2 linked regions of the Homo sapiens genome follow. The protein of the gene in region 2 purifies or fractionates together with the protein of the main gene of each other region. This does not show direct contact. Each region holds a gene or a part of one and is shown on either strand. Other genes may lie near its edges.

Region 1 (8,020 bases), on a different chromosome or scaffold from region 2:
GATAAGTGCTTAAAAAGGTAGCTCAGGGCAGAATAAGAATACTTCTAGCTGAGGGATCAGTTCCAAGGAAGATGCAAAACTAGAGACTGACTTTTAAAAGATGTGGGCATACAGAGAAAACAGACAAGGGGATATTAGTGAAAGAAAAAGATTTGAAAATGGCACATATGCAAGAAAGTACTGACCACAGAGAATAGCTGAGTACAGTAGCAGCTCAGATGGGATAGCATATAGAATTCATGCAAACGCGGCTGGAAGATACTTCTAGGATAGAGAAGGCATTAAAATGTAGACCAAATACTTTTATATTTTATCCTGATGAGAGCAGGAAGCTCTTGAAGATGTTTAGGCGTGGGAGACACACGAACAGGGTTATTTTAAGGACATTAATGTACCAGGAATATGCAAATTGGCTTAGAGATGGCAAAATCTGAGGGGGTACTCCGGAGAACTAAGACAGAAGTCCAGCTCAGAGGAAAGAGCCACCAGAACAGGGTAAGTGGTAGTGGTACTGGAAGGAAGGAATAAAAATCTTTAGGAAGTATTATGGGAGAGCTTGGCAATTAGATGTGGAAGGGTAAAGGGAACGGAAAGCCACAATTGGAAGTGATGAGGAAAAGCAAGTTTTAAGATTTTATTATTTTTTTTTTTTATAGAGCTTGGGAAAAGAGAAAGGGGGTAGAAAAAAATTGAATTTGGTTTGAGCACTGAGAGTCAAATAAAAATGTTTAAAGGAAAACTGGAGGCCAGGTGCAGTGGCTCACACCTGTAATCCCAGCACTTTGGGAGGCCAAGGTGGGTGGATCACGAGGTCAAGAGATCGAGACCATTCTGGCCAACATGGTGAAACCCCATCTCTACTAAAAATACAAAAATTAGCTGGGCGTGGTGGTGTGCGCCTATAGTCCCAGCTACTTGGGAGGCTGAGGCAGGAGAATCGCTTGAACCCAGAAGGTGAAGGTTGCAGTGAGCTGAGATTGTGCCACTGCACTCCAGCCTGGCAACAGAATAAGACTCCGTCTCAAAAAAAAAAAAAAAAGAAAGAGAGAAAATTAAATAGGAAAGGGGCCTATATTTAGGAATGAAGTTATAATTAGAAGGAAAAATTGTCAATTATTTTATAGAAGTGAGAGTTGAAGATGTGAAGTGGATGCTATCACTGAGCAGGAGATAATGGAAGAAAAGGAATGTTTGGGAGCAGAATTCTGGGGCAAGTTCATATTGAAAGCTAAGGGCAGCTAGTCAAACAATGATTATTGATATAGGAGGAGCCAAAGAAGTAAAAGGGAAGAGAGGCCCAAGAAAGGGTACCAACACTGGTGAGATTCAACTGAGACCGGAATGTCATATTTAATGACTAAGTCATTTCTTGGTGAACTTTACAAATAATTTAAATATTGCAGCGCCAATGTTTTGGAAGATAAATCTGGCATCATTTTGATGTCTCACCAAAACCTTAACTTTTAAATTTAACTTATTTTCCATGCTTTGTCTCTGCCTCCCCCGTCCTCTAACACTCTTACTTTTGACCCCTACTTCTGTCAGAGACACTAAGGAATGAGTGTGCTGAGAAAGCAGGAAAGGAAGGTATCTTTCCGAAGTGATAGTAGGTTTTCATAGAGAAAGTCCAGCTGATTAGAAGAATCTACATGAGAGGCAAAGTAAACATTGTCTTCCAAATTTCACACTGATTTTGCATTTGATAGTTTAATACTTAAGCGCTATTTAAGATTAATTTTAAAAATCCAAAACTTGAAGCCTTAACATAATGCAAGAACCAGTGTGACTCACATCGCATATCCTATTACATAATTACACAATATAGGTAGTCCTTATCATGGGGTTCACTCCTTACCAAAAGATAACGGCTCCTAAATAAATGTACAAATGTCTTGATCTATATATTAATTTCTGTGCCATAAGACTGAGGCCATAAAATCAGATTTTGTTACTCCCCTGATTAAAAACATTTAGTGGTTACCCCCACATTCTTTACCAAACCTCCAAGGCTCTGTAGTACATAATTTCTCACCTTTTCCGCTACATCTCCAACCATTAGTGTGCATCTCACTTTGCTCCAGCCACATTACATTGGCCTTTCCTCTCTTCAAAGACTTTTCTGTCTCAAGGCCTTTGCACTTACTACTGCTGTTTCCTCTGCCTCCAACTCTTTCCAAGGACTTCACTGGGCTGTCTCTTTCTCACACAGCTCCTATTATTCCCCCATTCATTCTTTCATTTAGTGAATATTTATTGATTGTCTACCAAAGGCCAATAACTTGTGCCCCTCCTCTCCACCAGATACATATACTTTCTATGCCATTATCCTTTATCATTTTCATAGCATTTATCCATTATCCTATTTTTCGTTTACTTGATGATCTGTGTCTCTCTCTCCACTTGTCTGTTTGAACAAGTGAACCTCCTAATGTTGCTACTAAAAAACCGACAAATATGTGTTGACTGAATGAATCAGAAAGACTGCTATGCGACTGAGTCTGTTAGTAGGGAAGTCAATATTATCAAATCTCGGGGGGGGGGGGGGGCTTAAACCTTTCACAGCTGGTCGGAAGCTCAGGATCAGAGAAGTTTCCAGGCCACAGAGATGCAAGCGTTTCTCTTCAGCGCAAAGCGAATAGCAGCAGAAAAGAAAACAATTATTAGAAGACGGGACCTTTGCTCTATCTGGGGGAAGGTAAGCTCCCAAACAAAACCTTTTTAAAAATCCGACTTTCTGAATGCTCTCTTCTCCATTCCCAGCTTCTGCCACGTCCCGGGTCCCAGAGTGTGCCTGCTCAGATCCCAGAAAACTTGCAGGAACAGGAAGAGGTCACACAGTGTTAAGGGGAAGGGAGAACAGGAACGGCGGGTTTCTTACCGCGGTCAAGACCCTGAAGTCATCTCGGCTCATGTAACGCAACTTGGCCACATTCACTTTCCCCATGGCGGCCCCAGTCCGAACCCAGATGCCTCTCCGACGACAGCCGCAAAGCGTAAGGCAGGTCGTTATTCCAGCCTCTAAGCGCTTTACAGCGCCAGATGGCTCGCGCACGCGCTGCGTCTTAGTATAGGTCCTTGTTAATAGTTAGAAGTGCTGTTCTCATTGATATAGGAAAATAAAACTACTTGTATGTCTTATGAAACACATAGTATGTAACAAGTGAACGTTTTATTTTTGTGTAATTTTTGCGTTGTGACTGAGTTGGCGGAGTGTAGATATTCTCTACAATGTGCCTTTTTTTTTCCATATCTGTCAGGACTTGCTGCCTCAATGACACGTTCCGCCTCAGAGAGCAAAGTGGTTACTTAATGGGAGGAGCAAATTTTTCCCGCAAACAACTTCTACTCTAGGCAAAGTGACTTCCAACAAGACAGGGGTAAAAGAACCTGAGCTAGAGTCCAGACAACCAAATCTGTTAAAGGTAAAGTGGACTGTAATCACACAAGCACGCCCTCTACTCCTAATTGCGCCTGCTCCGGCAGCTCCGGAGGGCGTGGTTAATGGAACTCATGCGCTTGCTCAGTACTTCTCTTAGGTTGGTCTAGGAGGCTTCGAAGTGCGCCTGCGCTGGTTGGGGTGGGAGTTTAAGGTGACACGTGGAGAGCGCGGCGGACGTCCTTACCTCCAGAGGAAGTGGGGATTTTGATAGTTCGGGCTGACCTACGCGGGTAGGACTTCGAGGGCCCAGGAGCGATTTAAGGATTTTAGAATAGTTACCCATACTGGCTCTGCAACTCCTCGATATTCAAGCCTTTGTCTGCTTTTTACTTGAATGCAGCATGTCTTTGATTAACCATCTTCAACCAATGAACATCTCCATTTAAACGGAATTTTTCTTTCTGTACTTACATAAGAAGGCATAGAAATGAATTTTTTTTTTATTTTTGAGACAGAGCCCGGCTCTGTCACCCAGACTGAAGTACAGGGGCGCGATCTTGGCTCACTGCAACCTCTGCCCTCTAGGTTCAAGGGATTCTTCTCCCTCAGCCTCCTAAGTAGCTGGGATTATAGGCTCACACCACCACGCCCTGCTAATATTTTTATTTTTAGTAGAGATGGGGTTTCGCCCTGTTGACCAGACTGGTTTCAAACTCCTGGCCTCAGGTGATCCGCCCCCCTCAGTCTCCCAAAGTGCTGGGATTACAGGCATAAGCCACCGCGCCTGGGCGAAAAGTTTTTAAAAAAACCAAGTGACTAACTTTATTTGTACAAATTTATGGGGTACGTGAGAAATTTTGTTACAAGTATTTAGGGTGTCTGTCATCCAAATACAATATATTTTTGTGTAACTATAGTTACCCTACTCTACTATCAAGCAGTGAATATATTCCTTCTATCTGACTCCATGTTTGTAACCTTTAACCTACTCTCTTCATCCTGTTCCCACTCCCCTCATCTTTCCCAGTCTGTTATCTGTCTTTCCACTCTCTACCTTAATGTGATCAAATTTTTTAGCTTCCACATATAAGTAAGAGCGTGTGATATTTGTCTTTTTGTTCCTGGCTTATTTCCCTTAAGATAATGACCTCCAGCTCCATCCACGTTACTGCAAATGGCAAGATTTCATTTTTTATGTCTGAATAGTACTCCATTGTGTATATATACCACATTTTCTTTATCCATTCATCTGTTGATGGACACTTAGGTTGATTCCATAGCTTTGCTATTGTGAATAGTGCTGCGATAAACATGCAAGTGTAGGTATCCCTTTGATATACTGATTTCTTTCCTCTGGGTAGATACCCAATAGTGGGATTGCTGGATTGAATAATTCTATTTTTAATTTTTTGAGAAATCTCCATATACTTTTCCACAGTGGCTGTACTAATTTACATTCTCATCAACAGTGTATAAGAGTTCTCTTTTCTCCGCATCTTCACCAACATCCATTATTTTTTGTCTTTTTAACAGTAGCCATTTGGACTGGGGTAAGATAATATCTCATTATGGCTTTGATTTTCATTTCTTATATACTTAGTGATGTTGAGCAATTTTTCATGTACCTGTTGGCCATTTGTATGCAAATAACTAACTTCTAGAGCAAGAATGGAATGGGAAACAAGCCATTTATGTTTCTACTCCGAATCCAGCACTTTAGCAAATGTTCCTAATCTATTATGGTGTAATTCTTACATTATTTCTCAACATTGCCTCAGACAGCCACCATTAACTGAGTGGAATTGACTAGAATTGCTATTGGTGTTCTGAAGTATGCCTTACGGTTAATCACATTAAGTCCAAATCTCTTATATTTGGAATATTACTTTTAAAATAAAATCATTTTAATAATCAGAACTTTGAAGAGTAAAAGTAAGTGATTGAAGTGCAGTTTGGTATTCTGTTCTACTCCCTCATACCATGCTTAGTGATGAGTAAAACAAAACATGTACAGTATTATTCGTTAATGCATTCACTATTCATCAAACATATATGCCATACTTTTTTACTAGGTCCTGGGGAATCAATCTCAACCCTCATACCTGTGTTGGAGGGTGAAGAGTAGAAAAATAGAGAGTAGTGTGACACAGATGTGCAAAAGGTGTATCATGTTGGTGTTTCCTCCTCCCTTACCTCCCCTGCCCTGACCCTGTCCTTACAAGTTGCAGAGAACCTTAACTGTCTACAGATCAAAGTGCACGTTTAGACTGGCATTCAGGATTGTCAACAATCTGTATCACCATCTTCAAGCAGTTTGTACTCTTGTCTAATTGAACTACTTTTGTTTTCCCTGTATAACTCCCTTAAATTTCTTTTTTACTAAGTTTTCCCTTCACCTGTAATACTTTTCCCTCCACCTGTAATATTACCTCTTCCCTACTGTTTTTCTTCTTTTTCAATCACAATATATGTAAATCTTATCTACCATTAAAATTCTATTCACCACATAAGGTTTTTCTTTATTATTCCTATTTATCTCTATATTAATTTTCTCTTGCTGCTGTTAACATATTACCGCAAACTTTGACGACTTAAAACAATAGAACTTTATTCTCTTACAGTTCAGGACGCTGGAAATAAGAGATTATTTTTACTGGGTCAAAATCAACGTGTTGACAGGACCATGTTCCCCCAAGAGGGGCTCTAGTGGAGAATTTGTTCCTTGCCTTTTGCAGCTCCTACTGGGATTTGGTGACTGCTGGCATTCTTTTGGCTTGTGGCACATCACTCCAGTCTCTGTCTCCATGCTTACGTTATTGCCTTCTCTACTCGTGAGTGTGTGTGTTTCCTTCTGTCTCTGTCTTATACAAATACATGTAATTGCACTTAGGATCCACTCAGACCCTTAATAACATCTGTAAAATATTTTTTTCCATATAGGATAAATTCTTAGGTTCTAGAAATTAGTATGTGGATATTTTTGGATGGGTCATCATTCAACCTCTCACACTCTCAAAGGGAAGTAAGTGCTCCTCCCTCTAATCTTCTGTAGCCTGTTGTCTTTAATGATTCTGGCCACTTTTTAACCTCTCCTGCTTGCCCATAGGTTAGGTTAATTACAGAAAAAGTTGAATGTGGAGACTGAATTTAAAGCATAGATTCAAGAAAAAGAAATTTTGTATATTTACATTTAAGATATTATACTAGCTAAAACTCAGAAAAAATTATGATAGATTTTACTGCATATGGGTGGTAGCGCCATACATTTGCATATAAGGGATATCAGTGGTGGAAAAAGACACAGAATGGAAGATAGGGATGTGTGGAGTTTATGGCAAGTTTCAATGGGAGACTCACAACACAAACTTGTTGAATTCAGAAGCATGTTCAGAATACACAGCAGAGATTTATATACCTTTTGAAAAATAGCTCCTGGCGTGCTGCAGAGCCCTGGGAGAGATGTGTTGCTTGGCGCTGAGATATCACACAGGTGACATCGGGGTCACAGTTGTTCAGTAATGATCTATCCTAAGATGAAAGTGGTACGTGCAGGAGTGAACACAAGCAGGACCAGAGGGTGCAAGCTGCATGAGCAGGTGGACTGGACTCTTTCATGTCATCCACTACCATTGCCCAAGTGCCTTTCCCTCAACTTATATCTCCATGGGTGATACCTTTGATCAGTTGGTGAAGCAAAAAAAGCCCACATTAGATTCACGGATGGGTCAGTTTGATTTTGTAGTTGAACTACAGCTCTATTTGTGTGTCCTTGAAAGAGAAGTGATCAGGGAATATCCTCCTGATGGGCAGATCTTTGGAAGGTGCACTTCATCATTCACTTTGTGTAGTAAGAGAAATAGCCCCAGGTTAAAATATACATGGACTCATGGGGAAGGGTGAATGGCTTGGCTGGTTGGAAAGGGACTTGGAAGAAGAATTAGTAGATTGGGAACAAGGATGTCTGAGGTAGAGGGGTATGAGAAAGGATATATGGGTGTGCACAAGAAATGTGAGTAAAGGAACTGGTCCGTGGCCTGGGGGTTGGGGACCCCTGCTTTCGAGTCAAAAGCCTCGAGGCCTCCTTTGGTACTACACCACAGTTAAACTTTTTCCTTTGCCTAATCCTACTTCTTTCCCTGCTCTTCTTAAAGAGTTGATCATAAGAGCACTCTGTATTAATATTCCCACATGCCACTCTGCAGTACAGAGTCGGCTTCGTGTGAAAGTCCACCTTCACCAGTGTTTTTCTGGGCCTTCAGCATAGTGATAATGGGACCCTTCCATAAAGGTGGGATAGGCAAAATAAGACCTCCAACTGAGAGATATTATCATTGGCTTAACTCTGACACTAACTAGTTTTTGATCTTGGGTATGCCTTTAATTTCACTCATTCAAACAAGTTTTTATTTTGAATGTTTACAATGCATTTTGGTAGACAAAACTCAGTTCCTTTACTCAAGAAGTTTATAGGTCTAATGGGTCATAGGTTCTTTATTTGTATTATGAAGGGGATAGACTTGAATTAGTGTTTCTAAACCTCTTGTTCATTTAAGTCCCCATCACAGACCCCGTCACCTTCATTTCTTTGTGGTTGAGAATCACTCTCTTCTGTGTATCCTTAAGGACCAAGAATATTTGGTT
Region 2 (7,021 bases):
AAATAATTTTAAAAGTTTCAGTGAGTTGAAAATTTAACATCCTTCCCAAATGCAGAAATTAGTTTTGTGCAAGGAAACCATGAGAATAATTTCTGGTGTTCCCTATATCCTTATATGAATCAGTGTTATCTCTCCTCTAGCCTGGCAATTCCATAGAGTAAATATGTACAGATACCATTACCTGCTCTTTCTCTCTTTTTCTGCTTGTGACCTTGGAGATGCCATGAGAACCATTAGCTTCTGACAGGGACTCCTTGAAAGAAAAACTTGAATTCTCTACTAAGCCCTCCTAGGAAAAGAAGATGCCATTCAAAACAGTGGTGTCTGTTGCTGACTTTAGAATGCTTCTGACTTGCTTGAGATTTGGGAAATGCTGCTGTTTGGATGGGTAGTAGATCCTGGCTCTACTATACCACTTACCAACCATGTTACTTAGGCAGGTCACTGAATCACTCTGAGACAGTCTCCTCTTCTATAAAATGGAAATAATATGTTTTTATAGGACCTCACAAGGGCCAGGCGTGGTGGCTCATGCCTGTAATCCCAGCAGTTTGGGAGGCCAAGGCGGGTGGATCACTTGAGGTCAGGAGTTCGAGACCAGCCTGCAAACATGGCAAAACCCTATCTCTACTAAAAATACAAAAAATTAGCCAGGCATGGTGGCGCATGCCTGTAGTCCCAGCTACTTGGGAGGCTGAGGCAGGAGAATTGCTTGAACCCGGGGGATGGAGGTTGTGGTGAGCCGAGATTGCACCACTGCAGTCCAACCTGGCAACAGAGTGAGACTCTGTCTCAAAAAATAATAATAACAAATAAAAATTAAAAAAAAAGGACCTCACAGGGTTTTATGAGAATCAAATGAGGTAATATGTCTGAAGGTACTTTATAAACTACCAAGTGTATGTAAATGTAATATTGTTTGTTTTCTTACTTTGAAAACCTGAATTTCAGGGAAAATCTGCCCAGTCATTTCAAGTTCAAGGAGTATTGTCCCCAGGTCTTCAGGAACCTCCGTGATCGATTTGGCATTGATGACCAAGATTACTTGGTGAGAGTCCATTAAGGGGTGAGGGTAGCCCTTTCTCCCCAGCAACTGAGGAGTACTATTTGGGACAGCCATATTTGGAGAAATGAGAGTCTTGGCAAATATAATTCTTTACCTTTTTGTGATTGCAGCATTTTCAAAAATTTAATGAAAATTATAAACCTTGTCCTTGGGGGAAAAGATGTAGATACATTAAGAATTTTGGCCAGGCGCTGTGGCTCACGCCTGTAATCCCAACACTTTGGGAGGCCGAGGCGGGCAGATCACCTGAGGTCAGGAGTTCGAGACCATCCTGGCCAACATGGCAAAACCCTGTCTCTACTAAAGATATGAAAATTAGCCAGGTGTGGTGGCGCACGTCTAGTCCCCGCTACTTGGGAGGCTGAGGCAGGAGAATCACCTGAACTTGGGAGGCGAAGGTTGCAATGAGCTGAGATCGTACCACTACACTCCAGCCTGGGTGACAGAGCGAGACTCCTTGTCAAAAAAAAAAAAAAAAAAGAATTTTGCATTCAGTTTCCTTCAGTCCACATATGGACACCTGATGAGGAACTGTGCTGAATCTCCTACCCCAGGGATTCATCCACTTTCAGCTGACCATTTTCCTATGACTTGTTTCTGCATATAAAGAGGGAGGAAAAGAGCTCTGGCCTATTCTGTGTCCCCAGGTGTCCCTTACCCGAAACCCCCCCAGCGAAAGTGAAGGCAGTGATGGTCGCTTCCTTATCTCCTACGATCGGACTCTGGTCATCAAAGAAGTATCCAGTGAGGACATTGCTGACATGCATAGCAACCTCTCCAACTATCACCAGGTCAGGCCTCTCTCTAGCCCCATTCTTTCCCTCTCCTCCCTACTCACATATAGCTCAGCTATTGTCAGTAATAGATGCCAACTGGGGAGAAAACTCATTGGAAGAGAGAATCCATAATCATATCCAGCCCTAAATGGGATGAGGGAAGCTATTCTGTCTGATAAGATTTACAGGCTGGGGGCAGTGGCTCACACCTGTAGTCCCAGCACTTTGGGAGGCTGAGGCGGGAGGATCACCTGAGGTCGGGAGTTCGAGACCAGTCTGACCAACATGGAGAAACCCCGTCTCTACTAAAAGTACAAAATTAGCTGGGCATGATGGCTCATGCCTGTAATCCCAGCTGCTCAGGAGGCTAACGCAGGAGAATCACTTGAACCCGGGAAGCGGAGGTTGTAGTGAGCCGAGATCGTGCATTTGCACTTCAGCCTGGGCAACAAGAGCAAAACTCCGCCTAAAAAAAAAAAAAAAGATTAAAAAAAAAAAGATTTACTTGGAATGTGGAGTTTATGGAATGTTTTGGCAGTAAAAACACTCTTCTTGAACATCTCTACTGAAGAAAAATTTCACCAAAATCAGTGAGCAAGGAATACATCAGAGTCCAAAAGGAGTCTTTGGTTTATGCAACAAATATTGAATACCTCTTATTAGGCCCTATGTTAGGCAGTAGAGTAGGAGGTAAATGAAACATCTGTGGCCCTTACAGATCCCTTGGTCTGATGGCAGTGACCAGTGACCCAGTATTAGCACACCGCAAGATATATACAATAGTAGAAGTCTGTACAGAATATTCTGAAGCTAGTGAAGAGCATCCGAACTCACCTGGGGAAGGAAATGCACCTGGGAGGCTAAAGAGAGTTTTTTAGAGGAGATACTGTAAGAGTTGATCCTTGAAGGACTAGTAGAGGTTAACCATTGGACAGGGTGGAAGAGCATTCTAGGCAAAGGAAAACAGCACTTGTAAGGCACAGAGCCATGAGAGAACTTGGTGTTAGAAAACAGCAAGAAATTCCATTTGGATGGGATGTAGTACTGTGGAAATAGGCAGGAGCCAGATTGTAAAGAGGCTTATAAGCCCCACAAAGAAGTTTGGACTTTATCCTGAAGGTGGTTTTGCAAGGGGCGTGATATATTTGTTATTTAGAAATATTTAGAAAATGTGACAGCGTTTTAGAGAATGGATTGGTGGGAGGGAACACTGGAAGGGTGGATACCAGTTAGGAGGTAATTTTAATAGTCCAGGGTAGAAACAATGAAGGCCTGGGGGAGCGATGGTGGTGGGGATAGAAAGGAAGACCTATGGGAGAACTGAGAGTTAAGACACAGGGGCCTCCAAGTTCCTGGTTAGGGATAACTGGGTGCCTATTCACCAGAAATTAGAAACAGAGGAACAGGTTTTTGGAGGAAGAAAGTTCTGATTTGGACATACTGAATTTGAGGTTTCTGCAATTCATCCAGATGAGGATGTCCAGTAAGTGGTTGGGGTATGTGTACAGAATTCAGGAAAGAGGATTAGACTGGGAGTATAGGTTTGAGAATTATATGTGAGTAAGTGATCATTAAAACCATGGCTATAGATACGATTATTGTAGGGAGGTTGTGTGCAGTGAAATGAAAAGAAGGTTGAGGACAGAACCTAAAGGAACAAGTGAAGAAATGAGCCCATAAAGGAAACTAAGAGTAGATGGACACTTTTAATTATTTATGCCATGCTACATTCCATACGGGATTCGACGACAGAGAGGAGGGGAATCAGGAGGGTGGTATAATAAGAGCTGAGGATGAGGAGACTTTTAAGGAGAGACTGGTCAATAGGATCAAGTGCCACAAAGCTGAAATATGACAATGACTAGAATACTTACTAGATTTGACAACTGAGGGATATGGGGGAGATTTCAGAGGAGAAATGAGGTATAAACCTGATTTCAGTGATTCAACGTGTGAATGAGAGACAGGAAATGGATTTCTTGCTGATTACTTTCCTGAGAAGGTTGGCTGTGAAGAGAAAGAGGCAGCAACACAGAAAGAGAGATGGTAAGCACTGAAGGAGTAATTTTTGTTTTTTAGAGACAGGATCTCACTGTGTTCCCCGGGCTGGTCTCAAACTCCTGGGCTCAAGCGATCCTCCTGCCTCAACCTCCCAAGTAGCTGGGATTACAGGTGTGAGCCTGGCTTAACAGGAGAATTTTTAAAAAAGAATCCAAATTGTAGGCCGGGTGCAGTGGCTCACGCTTGTAATCCTAGCACTTTGGGAGGCCGAGGTGGGCAGATTGCCTGAGTTCAGGAGTTCGAGACCAGCCTGGGTAACACAGTGAAACCCCGCTTCTACTAAAATACAAAAAATTAGCTGAGCGTGGTGGTGTGCGCCTGTACTCCCAGCTACTCGGGAGGCTGAGGCAGGAGAATTGCTTGAACCTGGGAGGAGGCGGGGGTTACAGTGAGCCTAGATTGTGCCACTGCACTTCAGCCTGGGCAACAGAGTGAGACTCCATCTCCAAAAAAAAAAAAAAAAAAAATCCAAATTGTAGGCCATCATGCAGACTTTTTTTTTTTTTTAGGTATAAAAATCTGTATTTATATTACAGTGACAGAATGACACAGCACAGCCCAACCCAATGCAGACATTTTAAATTATGGGAATCTAGCCTATGAAGAAACACTGCTCTAGATAAAATGATTTCATTGATAAGATATAAGTTGTAATCCTGGTTCTGTGCCACTTGCATATAGAAAGGGTCTAAAATAAGGATAATAACACTTAACCTTCCTCATCTCAAAGAATGATAAAGGTGAATTGAGAGATGACACTTAAAAATTAAGAGATGTACAAATGGAAGGAATCAGAGGAAAGGGGGATTCAGAAACGGCATGGATAACCTGGAGTGTTTTGGGGAAGCTTCCACCACTTTTGACTTTGTAATCTCTCTACTTGAAGTCCTCTGCTCTACCCTGGAATGGCAGTGTTTGAACTTCCCTGGGCTGTTTGTGTATCTGCTACTCAGCCTCTCCCCATTCCTTCCCCCTCTTTCACTGTAGTACATTGTGAAGTGCCATGGCAACACGCTTCTGCCCCAGTTCCTGGGGATGTACCGAGTCAGTGTGGACAACGAAGACAGCTACATGCTTGTGATGCGCAATATGTTTAGCCACCGTCTTCCTGTGCACAGGAAGTATGACCTCAAGGTAAGAAGAGGGTAGCTCGGACTTAGAGGGAGGCTCCTGATAGCCTGAGAATGGGGAAGACCCTGGGAGGTCTTTGGATGATTCCTTTTAAGGGAAAGAAGGCTGGGTTTGAGTACTCATCTTAGGGGCTGGGTTCTGACTGTTCTTTTAGCCACTTCTACTGACTTGGTGTTTGGGTCTTTCTGCAGGGTTCCCTAGTGTCCCGGGAAGCCAGCGATAAGGAAAAGGTGATAGTAATTTTATGTGCTAGGGTGAGGGATGAGGGATGAGGGAGGGCAGATGAGGGGAACTTCTTAGGATGGAGAGGCCACTCTATATAGGAATAGGGATTACTAGCTATTTATTATCTTAAACCACTTAAAAGAAGGGGGTAAACTTCTGTTGATCCGGGGATTGTTTGGAAGGGGCAGTGGGAGCAGCTGCTTTAACACTGGCATGGGTTATTCCATATGGAAGGCTTGGGGATGGGTGAGGTTGCCAGACTTGAAGAGCAAAGTGTTTAACTTCCACTTCCCATTCTGGGTTATTTTATTCAAGCAGCTACTTTTGCTTAAGAAGACACAGGCCGGGCATGGTGGCTTATGCATGTAATCCCAGCACTTTAGAAGGCCAAGGCAGGACTGCTTGAGCCCAGGAGTTCCAGACCAGCCTGAGCAACGTAATCTCTACCAAAAACACAAAAATTAGCCGGGCGTGGTGGCACGCGCCTGTAGTCCCAGCTACTTGGGAGGCTGAGGTGGGAGAATCACTTGAGTCCAGGAGGTCGCGGCTACAGTGAGCTGAGATCACACCACTTACATTCCAGCCTGGGCAACAGAGTGATCGAGATCCTATCTCAAAAAAAAAAAAAAAAAAAAAGAGGAGAAAGAAAAGTCAGCCTGGAGGGTCTTGGCTAAAAACCATAAGCAGAGAGTAGTGGGATGTGATTTGGGATACAGCTGTAGTGACTGAGTCTGTGGAAGTCACTGGAGGTGAGAACAGACCAGGGAAGCATCACAGTGTGGAGTTAGATGAGATCTAACTGAGCTAGCATAGAGCCCTAGACAGAAGGTGGGGTTCTGAGACCTTGGGGAAGGGATATGTTCCCAAGATGTCCCTTTACATATTCTTAGGTTAAAGAATTGCCCACCCTTAAGGATATGGACTTTCTCAACAAGAACCAGAAAGTATATATTGGTGAAGAGGAGAAGAAAATATTTCTGGAGAAGCTGAAGAGAGATGTGGAGGTGATGATTGGGTGCTCTGGGAAATGGCTTTCCTTTTTTTGCTCCCTAGAGGGTAGTTGTCTCTTTCATTCACGGTATGAGGGAGCTCCTCCCCTTCCCTTTATTCTTCAGGTCCTCTGCCTATATGGGGGTTTAGTATGAGACATGAAAAACCCCTGGAGCTGACCCGTGGAAGGGGTGGCTGGAATAAGCTAAAAGGATGATCTTAGATACTAGGACATATAGGCACTAAAGGCAGTGGTATGCCCTGCAACCTCAATTTTTATACTTCCTTTCCCCAGAAGGGCCCCAGAAATTCAAAGGTACAGGTACAGGGGTGATACCTAGCAGTGAAGAGTGAGAGAGAGGTGTCTGATTTGTCAGTGGGTCTCAGTTTCTAGTGCAGCTGAAGATCATGGACTACAGCCTTCTGCTAGGCATCCACGACATCATTCGGGGCTCTGAACCAGAGGAGGAAGCGCCCGTGCGGGAGGATGAGTCAGAGGTGGATGGGGACTGCAGCCTGACTGGACCTCCTGCTCTGGTGGGCTCCTATGGCACCTCCCCAGAGGGTATCGGAGGCTACATCCATTCCCATCGGCCCCTGGGCCCAGGAGAGTTTGAGTCCTTCATTGATGTCTATGCCATCCGGAGTGCTGAAGGTGAGAGAACCGGGACAATTTAAGGGTGGAGAGGGGATTTTTCCTGGAGGACAGAGACCAGAGTGCTGGGGGAGAGCCTGATTAGCTTTTCAGAACAAAACTGACTGCTTCCTGGAG

What was found.
Region 1: the proteins of PIP4K2C (region 2) and RIOK2 purify together in Homo sapiens (affinity purification with mass spectrometry; 2 studies listed by BioGRID and IntAct, with this or other methods). This does not show direct contact.

The regions. Positions count from the first base shown.
Region 1 is NC_000005.10:97,180,248-97,188,267, forward strand, and holds the start of RIOK2 (serine/threonine-protein kinase RIO2), read right to left. Parts: upstream 3,001-8,020; 5' UTR 2,945-3,000; coding exon 2,879-2,944; intron 1-2,878. UniProt on the Homo sapiens protein: Serine/threonine-protein kinase involved in the final steps of cytoplasmic maturation of the 40S ribosomal subunit. Involved in export of the 40S pre-ribosome particles (pre-40S) from the nucleus to the cytoplasm.
Region 2 is NC_000012.12:57,594,175-57,601,195, forward strand, and holds part of PIP4K2C (phosphatidylinositol 5-phosphate 4-kinase type-2 gamma), read left to right. Parts: intron 1-951; coding exon 952-1,048; intron 1,049-1,713; coding exon 1,714-1,857; intron 1,858-3,783; exon of another isoform or gene 3,784-3,885; coding exon of another isoform or gene 3,886-3,888; intron 3,889-4,890; coding exon 4,891-5,037; intron 5,038-5,225; coding exon 5,226-5,264; intron 5,265-5,577; coding exon of another isoform or gene 5,578-5,628; exon of another isoform or gene 5,629-5,643; intron 5,644-6,149; coding exon 6,150-6,263; intron 6,264-6,636; coding exon 6,637-6,904; intron 6,905-7,021. UniProt on the Homo sapiens protein: Phosphatidylinositol 5-phosphate 4-kinase with low enzymatic activity. May be a GTP sensor, has higher GTP-dependent kinase activity than ATP-dependent kinase activity. PIP4Ks negatively regulate insulin signaling through a catalytic-independent mechanism.